2 separate regions of the Homo sapiens genome follow, and region 2 is linked to region 1. The links come from fine-mapping of genetic effects on gene expression. Tissue or cell type: cerebellum. Region 1 holds a variant in brackets; the other region holds the start of a gene. All regions are shown on one strand. Distances are from middle to middle. Region 1 overlaps FAM124A (family with sequence similarity 124 member A). Region 2 holds the start of FAM124A (family with sequence similarity 124 member A).

The links. PIP is the estimated chance that this variant, and not a neighbour inherited with it, causes the effect.
Region 2: it holds the start of FAM124A, and the variant in region 1 is fine-mapped to the expression of FAM124A in cerebellum (GTEx, PIP 0.97).

The regions. Positions count from the first base shown.
Region 1 is chr13:51,238,600-51,246,932 of GRCh38, reverse strand. The region is part of intron 2 of FAM124A (family with sequence similarity 124 member A); the gene reads right to left. Among named protein-coding and RNA genes, the nearest start is that of FAM124A, 20 kb to the right of the region's middle. RefSeq lists enhancers at 2,603-3,191, 3,192-3,781. The variant C/T (reference allele first, on the strand shown) is at 3,926.
Region 2 is chr13:51,217,366-51,225,698 of GRCh38, reverse strand. It overlaps FAM124A (family with sequence similarity 124 member A), which reads right to left and starts at 3,301. Exons shown (of 4, transcript NM_001242312.2): 1 at 3,130-3,301. The coding sequence starts at 3,197. RefSeq lists silencers at 3,353-3,412, 3,533-3,582 and an enhancer at 3,363-4,153.

The DNA of each region.
Region 1 (8,333 bases):
AAGAAAGCCTATAGCATGGCGTGAGAGGCTTGGGTGTGAAGAGGCCCGGGAGAAGGTGGCTTCTGAGACTCTCCAGTGGAGCTGTCAGGGCGCTCAGCCCTGTGCCATCTCTATCAGTTACACAAAGGTTTCCCTGAGAGCAGTAACAAAGACCATGCTGAAGTCTGCATGGATGAGTGAATGTTTACAGCTCTGCAGAAGGGCGAAATGCCCGGCCTCAGAGCAGGGGGGTGAGCTGAAAGGCATTCCACCAAGTACCAGCTCGCCTGGCAGTTTGGGAGGCAGCCAAGAGCAGGCGAGCCAGGATGACGAAGACCCGACCCCCAGAGCCCCCTCTGCACTGCCTGAACCAGGGACATGTAAGTGGCTAAGACCCTGCCCCAGAAGAGCTAAGGAGAATGAGCAGTGGCATTAGCATGCTCTGGCCATCACTAGCACGTACCCGCTGCACATGACCTGAAAACACAAGCAAAGAACACAGAACGCAGCTTCAAGCTGTCATCAGGTGTTAGAGTTACACCCCCCCCCACCCCACGAGAAACATGCCTCTGTGGAGCTGGATAGGAAACCAAGCATTTGAGGGGAAGGACAGAAAATGTGAATAATTAATTGCCACGAAAAGTCTCTATGCCTCCCTGGAGAAACACAGACGACATGACTGTGGGATGTGCTCTGCCTTTATCATATCTATTACATGTCTTCTCAAAGGACCTAGCGAGCACCTGTTGAATTATGGTAAAACACAGACCAGAACCAAACAGAGCAGTGGCACAGACTGCCCCAAGGCTGGTGGGAGGATGGGAGCTGCTAGCACACCATTAACAAGGCTTTCAAATTAGTTTGTGTTTTCCTAAGGAGAAGGGAGATTCTTTTTCATTTGATTATAGACAATTAGGCTTTCCTTTGATAACACAAAATGAAAACAGTGTTAAAGAAAGCAGTGTACAAGCTCAGGCCTTCTATGATGCAGAAAGTGTACTATTAGCCTGGGCATTTGTTATATATATATTTTTTCCAACATTTTACCTCTCCTGTGTATCCTGTTTCTGGCCATTTAAATTTAACAGAAAATTAATTTAGACAATAGCAACCATTTATTATGCTCTTATTATTTGCCAGACATTGTCCTACAAGCTTTATGTATACTATCTCATTTAATCTTTCATTTAAAGCAACACTATGATAGATGAACTACTAACTGACCTGCTCAAGACCATTTGCCTGGAGAACAGCAAGGGCTGTCTGAACCCCGGATCTGTGCTCCTCACCACTATGTCCTCTCACTACTCAAGGGCACAATCCTCGTGATACAGGAGATGGAAAGAAATTATTTAGGCACATAGTGAGTATAAAAGAGCCCTTAGCAGAATTTTGCTTTTAACAAAAAAGCAGCCCCCAAATCATTTCTTTTCTAACAAAGAGCAGTCTGAAAATTCGAGCTGTAGATGTAGATAAGCAAGCTGGAAGCTTGCACAGATGAATGCCGGAAGCTGCGCCAATAGAAAAGGGCTACCTGAGGGCCAGGTATGTTCAACCTGGAGGCTCCATCTTCCCTTTTCTTTGTCACCGTGTGTACAGTAAAGGAACAGGCAACATGGCATCCGCCAGGTGGAGAATCCATCTGCATAATAAAAGATTAAAGTGGGGGGCGGCCAGATTTTCACATGCTGTGCAAATGGCACACCTAGTCCTAACCAGTTTTTTGCATCTTATGCAAATGGCACACCTGGTCCGACCAATCTTTTGTGCCCTATGTAAATCAGACACCACCTCCTCAAGCTCATCTACACAACCCTAAGTATTTTGTGGCAGACCAGACACCTGCTTGGGAGCCCTCTCTCTGCAGGAGATAGCCTTTCTCTTTCTTTCGCTTATTAAAGCTCTGCTCTTAATCTCACTCCTTGTGTGTCCACATCCTTGATTTCCTTGGCAGAAGACAACAAACCTCGGGTATTATCCCAGATGAACGATGCCACTTCACTTGGAATCATCGCGTTGGTTTTTCTGCCCCAAATTGGCTGGGGCTCTGAAATCATGGCTTAGCTCCTTCACCCACCTTAGGTGGGAGAGCCTGCTGTGAATGGGCTGGCTGTTTCGCCTGGGTGGGCATCCTCAGCTGGAGTCTTCGGAAGAAGAGGGCAGTCTGCCTGTTGACAGACTTCCGGGTGCTGGACCTACCTCAATGCTGCTTGCGCCAGGGCCCCTCACAACCACTCTCTGCAGTCTTGGGCTTTAGATCAGCCATGCCTGCACTGCTTGCCCGGTGCCTGCCAGACTAGCCCTCCTCCCAGAACTGGCCAACTGGTGTGTCCCCAGAGCACCCCCTCCCCAGCAGTGGGCATGTCTAGTTGAAGAGATCTCTCATTCCAAAAGAACTTCCTGGACAAGTCTCAGGATATGACAAGCTCAGGTACCCCTTTCTAGAATTTTTGGGCAACGATTAATATGATTGTCACTTTAGACACAATTTGTCACTGACAATTTGCAATTTAGTTTCATCATTTATTTAATCAAAGAATGTTTACTGAACACCCACCATGTGCCAGGCACTAGAGGATACAGTGGTGAATAAAACAGTCTCTGCCTTCAGAGAGCTTATAATCTAGTGAGGGAGACAGACAATAAACAAATATATAAGATGTAAGCCGGGTAGCTAAGTCCTACAGACAGACACTTCACTGAACACACACATGCTCAACGTGGTTTCCAAGGCAGTGGCTGTAACAATTTACCATTGACGGAATAAACTGCTGTGCGCCATTCCAGTGCCAAAATTACTGCCAACACTGCAGTGCCCAGTAATCCCCGACGAGGCCAACAGACTGTGAAGGAGGGCACCTCCAGCTGTTGCAGGTTGTTTGGTTTAGGAATCTGGCCCTGGAGCCTGGCTTGAGAGCTGCATAAGGTTGAATAAACACTTATTTGCATTTCTAAAGCCCCCATCAACGGCACTGAGTGGCTTGGGGGCTGGGATACTGGTCTGCCAACCAGACCCACATGATCCAGTGGCAGAAAACTCAGGTGAGACGGTGCGTCACACACACAACAAAGACATGTCCAGGGCACCGGCTGACACTGTGAATAAAGACCAGATCTGGGCTGGGCGTGGTGGCTGAAGCCTGTAATCCCAGCATTTTCGGAGATCGAGGCAGGTGGATCACCTGAGGTTAGGAGTTCAAGACCAGCCTGGGCAACATGGTGAAACCCCGTCTCTACTAAAAATACAAAAAAATTAGCCGGGTGTGGTGGCGGGCGCCTGTAGTCCCAGATACTTGGGAGGCTGAGTCAGGAGAATCACTTGAACCCTGGAGGTAGTGGTTGCAGTAAGCTGAGATCACACCATTGCACCCCAGCCTGGGCAATAAGGGCAAAACTCTGTCTCAAAACAAACAAACAAACAAAAAAAACCAACAACCAGGTCTGAAAGCAGGAGGGAAAAAGGCTCTGGGTGACGCTGAACACAAAACTTGCAGAGGGCTAGCCTCCCCACATTGAGGCATTCCCCAGAACGCCAGAAACAAATGCCTTCAGAAAGGGGCCTCCAAATTCCTTCCTGGGAGACGCTATTCATCCGGAATGTAATGAATAACCTGCCTTCATCTCTTTTTTTCATAGTTTTAGAAGCCAGTTCTTTGAAACTTTGAACTAATGAAAAATGTGTAAGCAACTCCCTTACTCCACCAATATTTAAGACAAAATCTCAGACTTTGTTCTTGGTAATTTTGTAATTTTGACAAGGCCTGTTGGCCTGCAATTTTGGGCTGTGAAAGTGGCGAGACTGGTTGCAGTGCTGGAAATAATGACCTGTGGTGGCAGTGAAGTGACATATAGGATTTTTAACATGGAGATCCAAACTGCATTTATAATATAGATCATAAGGTTCTTCCTCAGCCTGATTTCACAGAAGTGTCCTGTAATTGAAGAA[C/T]TGAACCTAGGCTGAAATGATTAAGCTAAAACTTATATTTTCATTTGGCAGAGGAGTACAATAAAGGATCTTTCTGGTCTATAGGCCCTCTCACGCTTTTATAAGAAGGGTGGCTTTGCTATAACAGTTATTCGACCGCCCTCTCATTTTTTTTATGATTTGCTGGAGGAACAATGTCAGCGATGTGGATGTCTAATTCATATTCCTGAGCTCATTCTAAAACCAGGACACTATTAAGAAAAAAATATATAGAAAGTAAGGCAGATACTTTAGATACCCTGCCGGTTTTTTTTTCCACTTGGAAATGGGACATCCATCTTACTTTAAATGTATTTCTAAGCTTCATTCAGGTCCATCATTCTGAAACATACTCTCCTGATAGGAAAAGGAGGGGGAGCAAAAGCCGGACACCAACCAAAGGAATGACAGACACTTTAAATCCTGATACAGCTTGACAGAGATTCTGGGAGAAGACCAGAAGGTTGATATGTAATTAGTTTGAGGAGGTATAACTGCAGCTAGAAACACTTAAACATATCTAGCATACGTGTGTAAGTCCCTGGGACTGCAAGGACTTTGAAAGTTTATGAGAAGTAATGCAGGCCTGACACCCAGCAATGTACCATGCTTAATGATGTACTAAGACTCCTCTTGCATAAAAATTTGACGGTTCAAAATGCCTGAAGAGGCTATAGCATTCTACACAGAGTCCTTTCTTCTACTCAGTAATTTTAATTCTCTCTAAACCACATTATGTGCTTGTCATTTGCATTTGCAGCAAAGTCATCCTGAGAAAGTCAGGATCTCAACAAATACTGGAGATCCAGAGATGACAGAGCAGGGCTTGGAAACAAGAGGAACAGAATTAATATTAATCTTGTATTAGGAAATGAAAGAAATCTACCAAAAAGAACAAAACAAAAAAGACAAAAGAGGAAGATGTTAGCCTAAGCCTATCCCAAGGATTTGTTCATCAGGAAACTCCAGGCCTCTGTCTTACACTAGAGCTCGTGGGAGGAATCCTTACAATTATATTAGTCAAGATTTATCTTAAAAAGGGACTTATTCTGGCAGGATATTGAGAAATCAGATGAATAATGATTAGCCGTTGCAACTCTTCTAAGAAAAGCCACTGCATATGTGCTTATAAAACACGTCCTGAACGCAGTAGATGCAGCAGTGACGAAATCCAGCACTGGCTTTGCTCATGATCAAACGAGCAATGTAGGAAGTGGATGGAGCCTGGGGACTCATTTTTTTTTTTTTGGCCTAAAATTCAGTGGAATATTCAAATATTTTGAAAATTTTAATATAACACTGACAAGTCTCCGGTACTTGTTTCTAAGTCTCCTTAGAAAATGTGTACTTTGGGCCCATTTGGAGAACAAACTTACTGGACATGACTAGAAAATTAAGGATGGGTAAGACAGTCAGTCCAGCCCCCTCATTTTACAGTTGGGGTCAGGCCACTTGTCAATGGTGGGTCTAGAAAGAGAACAAACATCTCCCAACTCCCAGTTCAGGGCTTTCTCCTTTATACCTCAGTGGCACCTAGTCCTGAAGTGCCTGCCCCAAGGACTCCAAGTAAGAGGAGACATAGCTTGTCCTTGCCTTTGTGCAGCTTAAAATCTAACTGAGAAGCCAAGACCTTCACACGTGACAAATGTAACAAAAATACAAATGGGAGATGATACATTCTAAATGACGCAGAGAATGGGATGCAGAAATAATAACCAAGTTTCCCTTTCCCACAGTTTTCTTAATCGCCTTGGGGCCCTCCACCTACAGAGTCCTGGCTGTTCACTGCTTCAGGGAGGATGGCAGCAGATAAACTTAGTAATTGAATTTCTGAAAATTTTGTTTTAACTCATAACAGAGGAAATGGTCTTGAAGGGCAAGGCTCTCTGTTGCAAGAGCTGGGCTTTTGGAGACAGAAAAGGCTTTCTGAGCCAGGAAAGGCTAAAAACCTAGAGCAGAGGGTTCACACTGTGAACCAGAAGGCAGAAGAACATGTGGGGCTGCAAGGGCAGCTTTTCCAGCTCAGATGCCAAGTTTGGGCTTCTGGTGGGAGGAAGACGACTGGAAGGAACTTGATGAAAATCTGTGTGCCAGAAGCGTTCTGAGAAAGGATCATGGATTGAACCTCTCCTGGGCTGAGCCCTGCAGGCATTGGGATCCCTGAGAAGAGCAGGACTGTGTCTTCACTTGTTAGGGGGTGAGGGCGGCAGCTCAAGATGAAGTTCAGCTCAATTATAGAGAAATAAAGCAGTACTGCTTTTATGTCTGAGTTGGTGACTGAAAATTCATACTCTTTATAATAGGAGCTTCTTATAGGAGTTCTCAATGAAGAGCAGAACGTGTTATAATCTAACAGATGGCGAGCCCTTCATCACACTGTCTCATAGAGAGACCTCTAACTTCCCAGTTCAGTCTATCTGTGGCCCTACATGTTTGAGCCTCACTCTCCTCAAGCCTGGGGCAATGAAATATTAAATATGGACTTGTAGAGAAAGGCCCAATTATCTCCATAATTGACAAAGGAAAGACGTCTTGCAACTACTGTTGTTACGAAAAGGAAAATCATTCTTCTAAGCACAGGTTGAACTGCTCAGCTTCACTTCCTTTGTGTGCCAATAATAACGTCAGAAGATGTCAGAGTCAGGTCAAAATAAAAAGGGGAGTGAGAGCATGTGGAACATTCCTTCCCTTCCCGAATCAGGTGATGTGCAAAATAGAAGTTTCACAAATGTGGAAGAAGGAGAGAAGGTTTAGAAAGAAGGAAGAATGATGGGATCATCTTAGTTTTCTTCGACTCTGAATTTTGTAACCTTGAAAGGATATGACTTGGCTTTTTGTATCATATTTTTCAGCTACTTCTAACTTGTTATACCATCAGCAGTTAAAGACAGCAGTATGGATGTTGAACAAAGATAGAAACTGTACTGGAGTGGAAAATATTTTCCATAAAGGCTGGACGGAGCACCAATGGCTTTGCTGTGGCTGTTACTGTAGTCCGAGGCTGGAGCAGGATTGTCATCAATACCACACTTCCAGTGAGGGCAGCAGAAAAGATTTCCCTGTGGTTCTCCAAAACCTGAAAGTCTCCCCGTTTATAACCGACTCCATAGAGTAATTTTGCTCATTGTTATTGTTTAAAAAACCTACTATCTATCTACATATGTATCTATCCAGATAATCTTTTGTGTACATAAAATCACAATTTTTATGACACTCTCATCCATGTCTGTGGGAGAGTGAAATGGCACCTTTGGAGAATACCCTAGCAATAGGGATCAAAAGCTTTAAAGAGTACAGTTTTTACCCCAGCAATTCCAATTGTAGGAGTTTTTTCTAATAAGGAAGGATATGCACAAAGACCTATTAGAAAGATGTTTTTGGCAATGCTGTTTACAGTAGTAAAACAGTGAATACAACCTATAGGACCAACAATAGTGAACTGGTGAATAAAGTACAGTGCAAAAATATAAGGGAATACTGTATGAATAGTCAAACTATTATAGAGATGAGTTTCCTGGCATATAAAGATGTTTGTACTATAGTTAGAAAATTAGACTATAAAACAAAATATACAATGCCATTTTTTAGTAAATTATTACCCAAAATGTTATATATCTACATAAATATATAGATGCTCAGAAAAAAATCCTACAAAGGCAGACACCAAATTATGTATAATGGTTGCTTCTGGATAGTAGGATTCTGGGTTTGCTTCTCTTTGCTAATCTGTATTCTCTGATTTTTCTGCAATGACTATGTATTATTTGGGTAGCAAAAAATTATTTTGAAATTGAGAAAAGCACCAGGCACATCAAGGTAAGGAGTAGTGGCAGTTATTCACTTTCGTTTCCTGTCTTGGGGGAAATCCTGATGATTCTGGTAGACCAGATATCCCTGAAGTACCACTTCAGCTTTTCAAGGGGGGAGAAAGTAGTCACGAGAAGTCTGCCTCCATTTTTCTTTCATATCCCGGATGGAAATCAACACCCTCTGTCGAGTTGAAGTCACACAACTAAAACTGACCTTTGAAACCAGAAGGACTACACCATATTTTTTTTGGAAATGGATGCCAGCGTAGCAAAGCATCAAAGGAGTTGTCTGTGTCATATACTGTCCTTACCCTGTGATTTCCTGATGCATATCTTTGGTTATTGCTTTTTTCTTATCAACTGTCAGATAGTTAATACTGCCTAGCTTTTCAGGCCCCCATTCAGAGGACTCTGAATATACAGGCCCCACACCATGAAATAACAATCTAATGGACTCACACGTTCAGCTTCAGTAGATTCCTTCATCTCAGAGGTTTCATTTGCCACTTCCATGGTCCAACAGGTAAGGCTGCTACCTGCTTCTCAGACAAACCCCAAACACACACCTCTACCCTCTTCAT
Region 2 (8,333 bases), 21 kb after region 1:
CTTCACTTCATCATCTCCATTTAAAAAAGACATTTAGCGTTCCTCATCTTCATTAGTTTCTCAGTAGCATAGTTGATCTCTCCTTCCTTTCTCAAAAACTCAAACCTCCCTTGGCTTCAATGATTCATATTCTTCTTTCTTTGACTCCAAGTCTACTCTTTCTCAGGCTCCTTTATCAGCTCATTCTCATTGACTGGGCGTTTAAATATAGTTTCTCAAGGCTGGTCTTAAAAAGCACCTGCTGCACAGAGTTGTTGAAGGATTCGAGGAGTCCATGAAATACATAAAGGCTTAGAACAGTAGGTGGCACATACTAAATGCTAAGAAAGTGCTTGCTATTACCTTCAGTTGATTTAGTCTCTCCCAGAGCTTCCATTGCCATTTTTAGGTAAATAGTACCCAAATGCAATGTCATCATGAAGACCTCCCTTCTGAGTTCCAGACAGATATACCCAACTGCTGATTCATCATCTTTACTTGGATGTCTTGCAACACCTCAGACACAGTGTGTTGAAAATGAAATGTCTCATATCTTGCCCAAACTTGGTTTGGAATAGATCACCAGCTACTTTGAGAATCTGATAAAAAAAAAAAGTTCTCTTCTCATACAAATTCACAAAGCACATCATTTTGCATACAACTTGAAGGAATTCATGGACCCCAAATTAAGGATCACTGCCTTAGCAGATGTGTCACTTGAGCTGAGTCCTGAAAGAAGAGTAGAGTTTCACCTGGCAGACAGGCAAGTCAGGTGGGAAGGGCAGAGCTGGCAAAGAGGGCAGCTTGACAAAGGCGAGGAAACAGAAAAATACAAGGCGCAAAGAAGGACCTGCTGAGAAACAAGGCCAGGGAGGGAAGAAGGGACTCCATAACAGGAGTCAGGGCATATAGGCCACGTTAAATTCCTTGCATTTGTAGATAACAGAGCCATAAAAGTTTGAAAGGGAGAGACATGATCAGATTTGCATTTTAAAAATACTAACGATAGCAAACACTTGTTGTCTTCTATGTGCTTTCTACATAATCTCTGTGAAAGCTGGATAGGGTAAGGGGTGGGGGCAAGCTCTGGAAAAGCAGGGAAACGATGAACAGCTTTTTGATAACTGAAATTCAAGGGCTCTGTGAATATATGGCAAACACAAAACTAATTAGCATACATTGAAATGCATGCTATTTTACCTTTAGCTTAAGGATACTAGTGATACAGTAAGAATTCCTTTTTTTTTGGAGATGGAGTTTTGCTCTTGTTGCCCATGCTGGAGTGCAATGGCGTGATCTCAGCTCATGGCAACCTCCGCCTCCCGGGTTCAAGCGATTCTCCTGCCTCAGCCTCCCGAGTAGCTGGGATTACAGGCATGCGCCACCACACCTGGCTAATTCTGTATATTTTTTAGTAGGGATGAGGTTTCTCCATGTTGGCCAGGCTGGTCTCAAACTCCCGACCTCAGGTGATCCGCCCACCTCGGCCACCCAAAGTGCTGGGATTATAGGCGCGAGCTACCGCACCTGGCCAAGAATTCTTTAAACAATTCTGTCCTGTTACAACTACACATTTTAGTGACAGAGGCTGAGAACAGAAGCTCTGGTGTCAGCAGGAGTGGGGAGCCCCTCCCAGGAGGCCTGGCCGCTGTCATGCTGATGTCCAGATCCTGGGGCGATGTCACCCCCTGGGTCCAGGACTTCCTCTCCCTTCTCTAAGACAGAGCCCTTGAAAAAAATATCAGTTTTAGGTGAGTTCTGCAAATTGAAAATGAATAGACTAGTGAATGCTTTATTTAACGCAGTTACAAATAAGCTGGTTAATTTTGCTTTGTTTCTTCTATTCATGGTCCAGCTAACTAATGGCAGAAAAAAAAAGCCAATAATCTTGTTAAAGTTGATAAATGCCACTTACACAAAGAGTGGGAAGAAGAAAGGAAGTTTGGCATTTAGCATCAGGTTACTCCACCAGATTATAATTGGGTGCTGTAGAGAGCTATGAATAAGTTTGGATAACAGAGAAAGCCCATTGCTGGGTGAATGCCCTAGGGAGTAAAGTCCCGCATTTGGGCTAGGAGTGGTGGGGCAGGAGGGGCCCTGTGGGGAGCTTTGCCGGGGTTGGGTTAGAACTCTGGGTCGATCGTGGGCCTGGATTCTCTACCTGCCCTCACAGGGTTGCCAAATCCTGAGATTAGTCTAAAACCTCTCCGACCTTCCAGGAATGAGGCTTTCTGTAGTCTAGGCAGCTCCCGCCCTCCCCCAGGATTACTCCAGATAGGAAAAAACACCCTTTCCTCCTGGGTCAGTACCCGCGGCCTGGATGTGGTGCTGACTCTGCACAGGAAAGTCCTTTAGAGACAGAGGCTGCCTGGAAGCCTTTATAACGACATTCATCTCCTAAAAGGCATTTTGTCTTTTCTTCCGCTCAGGAAAACAGTGTTTGGAGACTAACTAATTAGTCTCCAAAGGTTTGAGCCCATTGTTTGAGTCCGCTGAAGCGAAGAGAATATTAAAAAAAAAAAAAGGCAGGGCTAGATCCTAATCCCAACACCATCTCCATCCCGCCGGTACAACAGGCCAAAGGGTCCAGCTGGGACAGGTGCACTTAGAGGTGAGGAAGTTCGGCGGGACTGGAGGAGTCGGGGAGGGGGACTCGGCAGCACAGATTAAAGTCCCACGATGAAGCCATATAACGAGAAATGCCATCCTCCTAGCCGACTTCGGAAAGACTTTTAGGTGCGGGTGTCCCACCCTGCTTTTCTTCCTCTCCCGATCTCCAGGGCCGGACTCCAGGGGGCTCCGGAGCTACAGGAGGAAAGTCCCCGAGGAAGGAGGAAACAAGTGCAAGAGCATCTCCTGTCTCTAGCGATGCAGACAAGGGGTCTTTGCATCCGCCTGGCGCTCTGCATCGCCTCACAGGATGGGTGGGCTTGCACTGAACCTTGAGTCCTTCCACTTTCCTCCCCCCGGGTGGTGCCCGCCCTGCCCAGGGCAGCGCGGCCCGCCCAGGAGAGAGCGGGGGATCCGGCAGGAGGAGAAGCCCCGCGCCCCGGTCCCGTCGCACGGATCAGGAGGGTCCCCGTCCGGGGAGGAGCCGCCGCGCAACTCGGAGAGCGCCCCCCGCCCGCGGCCCGGCCCGGCGCGGCTCACCCTCCGGTCTCGGCGCCCGAGTCCACGCAGTCGTCCTCCTCGCCGCCGCCGCCCGCCTTTGGGTCCATGGTGCACGTCCCGGCCGCGCTCGGCTTGCGGGCGCCGTCGTGACCCGGGGCGCCCTCCCTCCCGGCCGCCCAGTCCGAGCCGGCCGGGCTCCCTCCGAGCGTCTGGCGGCCCGGGAGCCGGCAAACAACTCAAGCGCCAGCCGCGAACCCCGCGCCGCGCCCTCTCCCGACCGCGCCCGGCTGGGCACCCGCGCCTGCGCCCGCGCCCGCCCCGCCCCTCGCCGTCCGGCGGGACCCGCGTGTGCGCGCGGCGGTGCGCGGGGAGTGCGCGTGCGAGCGCGTGTGCGAGCGCGTGGGGGGCGTGTGAGCGTGAGTGGCCGAGGTGTGTGGTCTCACACCCGTGCGTCTGTGCATGCGGTGTGATGTGGGTGCGGTGTGCACTCCTGGTTGCACGCGACTGTGGCTGTGCTGAGCGCGTGTGCCCGTCTGTGGTGCGTGACCGCGTGTGTGTTGTGGGGGCGGGGTAAGTGTGCACACGAGAGCCGCCTCTCTCCCCCAGGCCCACAGTCCGGGAATCCCGAGCCCCAGGGCTTGCCACGAGGTTCCCCACCTCCTGATCTGGGAGGAGCACTGAGAAAACCAACCTCAGCGCATCGTGAAAGCTGGGAAGGATTTGTTTCCCTTTTGGGACCAATTCGAACACCTGGGTGTTTTCTTATAGTTTCTGAAGAATTGCTGACGCCAAATTCATTATCACCTTTCTCAGTACACGTCTGAGCGGCATCCCACCCCCTCAACTTGCCAGTTTACAATAGGTGTCATGCATTCTTTTGCTACTTAAAAAAAAAAAAGCCTTTAAAAATAATTTAAAGAGCATTGAATGAACCTGCAATTCACGGGTTGTTGCAGCAAGGGGATAACCTTAGGGTGAGTTAATGATCGCTATTGGAGGGGCTCACCTCCTATTAGGAGGGTGAAGAGGGAGGCAAGTTGGCAGGGCGGGCGGAAGGAGACTTCGAACAACTTGAATTTAGTTCTGACAGCCCTATCCAAACCATTGGGAGGAATTGTCCTTACTGAGCCTAAAATTTCTTGCACCCCAAACAGCAATGGACATATTGGTGGGCATTAGCTGAAAGAAAGGAGCGTGCCAGTTCTTCAAGGGAGATTCCCCTGCCCATTTTTTATCTTGCAGCCAGGAGGGAACCTGCCTTTATTTACTCTGTGTGGGAACAATTCAAACTGTGCCTCATTTGATCCTCAGGGAAGTGCTGTGAAACAGGCTTACTTTTCTATTTTACCGTCAAGGAAACTAAACCCTACCGAGTTCGAGTGCCTGGTCCCAGGACACCCTATCAGTGAGCAGGGAAGCCAGGTAGTCCACTTAAGGTAGCTGGAGCCTGTGCCACTTACCTAGAAGGCTGATGAGTGGGCCAGTTGTATCCTCAGGAAGATGGTACTAAGGAAAAGGCCAGGGAAGAAAGGGTGAAATCAGCATGACTTTTAGAAGATGGGCTTTGGAAAATGAGATGCTATTTAAATGATTTCTGCCTTTCTCAAATATCCAGAGAAAGGGCATGCCAGACCAAAACCTCAAGCCACATCTCAAAATGATGCATGGATTCAGGTTCCCCTCGCCCACAGGGGACACAGTGTTATCATTCATCATTGGCATAGCAGTCTAATGGCAACTCAGTGATGCATTTATTATATGGAAGAGAAGCTTGAACGGTATCACTGTATTCTAGTGATGCATGGCTTTCTGCTTCAGTTCCCAGGTTTTAAAAGCCTCACTTCATTTTTTGCTTGTTTGTTTGAGACAGGGTCTTACTCTGTTGCCCAGGCTAGAGTACAGTGGCACAATCACAGCTCACTACAGCCTCCACCTCCCTGATTCAAGTGATCCTCCCAGCCTCCTGAGTAGCTGGGACTACAGGCGTGCCACCATGCCCAGCTGAGTTTTAATTTTTTTGTAGAGAAAAATATGTTGCCTAGGCTGGTCTCGAACTCCTGGCCTCAAGTGATCCTCCTGCCTCGGCCTCTCAAAGTGCTGGGACTATAGGCATGAGGCATTGCACCTGGCCCATTTTTTGGGAGGGCGGGGTATAAGAGTTGCTGGCAGGTAACCAGCACAAGAACCTTCAAGTGATCACTGCAGGGTATCTAGCCCCTAAACTTACATGGTTCCCACACTCCATAGTCCAGCTGTTTAATGTCAGTCTCTTTAATCATGGGGGTACGATGCTCTCCTCCACCCCTTTAAGATGGGGACAGAAAAGTGTCACTGGTCTGCTTAGGGTGTCTTGACTGCTGCCCTAAAGATATTCCTATCAGAGCCTGAGAACAGTGTTGGGGGAATACTGAGGTATGGCAGGAAGTGTAACAGGCTAGGAAACATGAAACCTGACTTCTGGATCGGAATCCATCATGTACTAGTTCTTTAAACTCTCGATAGAGAAAAAGGATAGACCATCAACTGTTTCCAAAGTTCTTACTACATGTCAGTCTTTGTGGTAAGGATTTTACATACATGATTTATTTAAATCTCACAAAATTCTTGTGAGGCTTCCTTTGTCCTTAAAATGGGGTTGTTGATATAAATCTCACAGGAGATTCAAAGCCCCTTAGAAACTACGAAGCATATGAATAAAAGATATTGCTGATTTTTTAATCACTTTTTCTCAGAAAGGTCTGAACATCAATCTTTTGTTGTATTTCACCTATAAAGCATGTTTCAGTCTCTGTTTATATTATTGCATGTGTTGGTGTGTTAGAAAACAAGGCAGTTCATTCATTTATTTATTGAACACTCAGTGTGTACTAGGCAGGGGCTGGTGCTGGGGATATGTTGAGGAATAGGCCAGAGCTATTTTCTGGCCTAATGGAGCTTTTTGGGTCAAGAGAAGGCAAGGCCAATGGGCATGGCTGGCCTTCCCACCAGGCACCTGAGAGGTATGTAGTGCCATCAGCCATTAGAATAGGACTGGAATGCCAAAGCCCTGTCTTGGAGGAAAAAACTTAAGATAATCGGATGGTAAATAGAGTCCATCAACTTTGCTGATGAAAGAGATGGATTAGTAATTAAGAAGGCCAAGAGTAATTGGGAGGGGGCCAAAAAAAGAGGAGCTAAGTAGCTTTAAGATAAGAACTTTACAGCAAGAGACTGAAAACAGATAAAAATAAATATCTCCAGAACATAGAATTTGCCCAGATTTGGATTTCAGTTTAGAGGGAAGCTAGGCCACTTTCATTGCATCTGTACCATTTGCTATTAGGCGAGCTTGATTTAGTCCCTTAAGTAAAATATTTGTTAGGGTTATCCAGTAGCAAATAGAACCAGAAAATATATTGGTCTGGAAACTTTTGCTCATTCATTTTAATTAATTAATTACTTTTTGAAAACACATTTCCCAGAAACAAAAATTACAGGTTAAAGAATGACATTAAAATTAAAAAAAAAGAAATCTCTTTCTTCCAAGACTCCAGAAGAGTCTGTCTAATGTGAAAAATAAATATTATGATCATGAGAAGAAAATTTATAAACTATTGACAAATCTACTTAGACAAAGAAAGCCACTAGCCCTACATGCAAACATAAGGGGACCAGATGGCAAAGGGATAAATGAAATGAAAGATAAACTGTTGTGTTGGGAAATAATCTCATTAAAATATAAATGACTCCACTTTGATAAGGAAGAGCACAGATAGTGGTCCTGCCTTGGAGGCTTCCCAAGAATTCTCAGCCTGCAGTTTATACCCGGACGAGATCTGGAGTCCAAGTCAGACATCAGACCACCCACCCACTGTGACCCCCAACAACTGGTGGGTGGGTGGGCGTAAAATGAGATGGGAATGTGAAAGGCTGGCTTCCGGAAATGTGCTGTGGAAATTTAAGAATCAAAGGGAACCTTAGACTCAGGGCACTGCCCTCCAGTCCCCCGTGAATAGACACGCCTCCTGGGAACTGTGGCTAAGTCACCCATTTATGGTTCTACGAATAACCTAGGCTTGGAAAGCTTTGGCCTTCCGTCCACTTTCATCCTGACACTTTCCTTCAGGCACCTGGTCCTCCCCAGCTCCAACGGCCTGATAGTCAGCTTGGCCTGCCATTACAAAGTACCACAGACAGCATGGCTTCAACAATAGAAGTTGATTTCGTCACAGTTCTGGAGGCTGGAGGTAGAAGATCATGGTGTCAGCAGGATAGGTTTCTTTGGAGGCCTCTCCTTGGCTTGCAGACGGCTGCCTTCTTGCTGTATCTTTCTTCTATCTGTGTGCATCCTTGGGTCTCTTTGTGTGTCCATATTTCCTTTTCTTGTAAATTAAACAGTCAGATTAGATGAAGACCAACTCTAATGGCCTCTTTGTAACTGAATCACTTTCTTTCTTTCTTTCTTTCTTTCTTTCTTTCTTTCTTTCTTTCTTTCTTTCTTTCTTTCTTCTGTCTCTCTCTCTCTCTCTCTTTCTTTCTTTTTTTTTTTGAGATGGAGTCTCGCTCTGTCGCCAGGCTGGAGTGCAGTGGCACAATCTTGGCTCACTGCAACCTCCACCTTCCGGGTTCAAGCGATTCTTCTGCCTCAGGCTCCCGAGTAGCCGGGACTACAGGTGTGCACCACCACACACAGATAATTTTTGTATTTTTAGTAGAGACGGGGTTTCACCATGTTGGCCAGGATGGTCACGATCTCTTGACCTTGTGATCTGCCCACCTTGGTCTCCCAAAGTGCTGGGATTACAGGCATGAGCCACCACGCCCAGCCCTGAATCACTTCTTTAAAGACCCTGTCTCAAAATACAGTCGCATTCTGAGGTACTGGGGATTAGGATATTACCACATTAATTTTGGCGGACACAATTCGACTCATAACACTGCCTTTGAAGCCATATCATGTGGGAGGCAGGATCTTATCATGGGTAAGACTGAGTTTCTCTCCAGCCACAGTGCACAAGCCCAAGTCTTCCCTCTCCCTCTATCACCTGCTAGGCTTGTGAACTGGGGCAAGTTACTTAACCTCTCCGGGACTCAGTTGTTTGCATCGCAGGCATACTGAGGTCTTTATGAGGACTGAGATGTTATCACGCAGAGAGTACTGAGATAGTGCCTGGCACATAGGAAGTATTGGGTATTATCATTTTACTCTGTGGTCAGCTTCCATATCTGAATCTTTCTTCATGACCTCTTTCTGGTTCTGCATC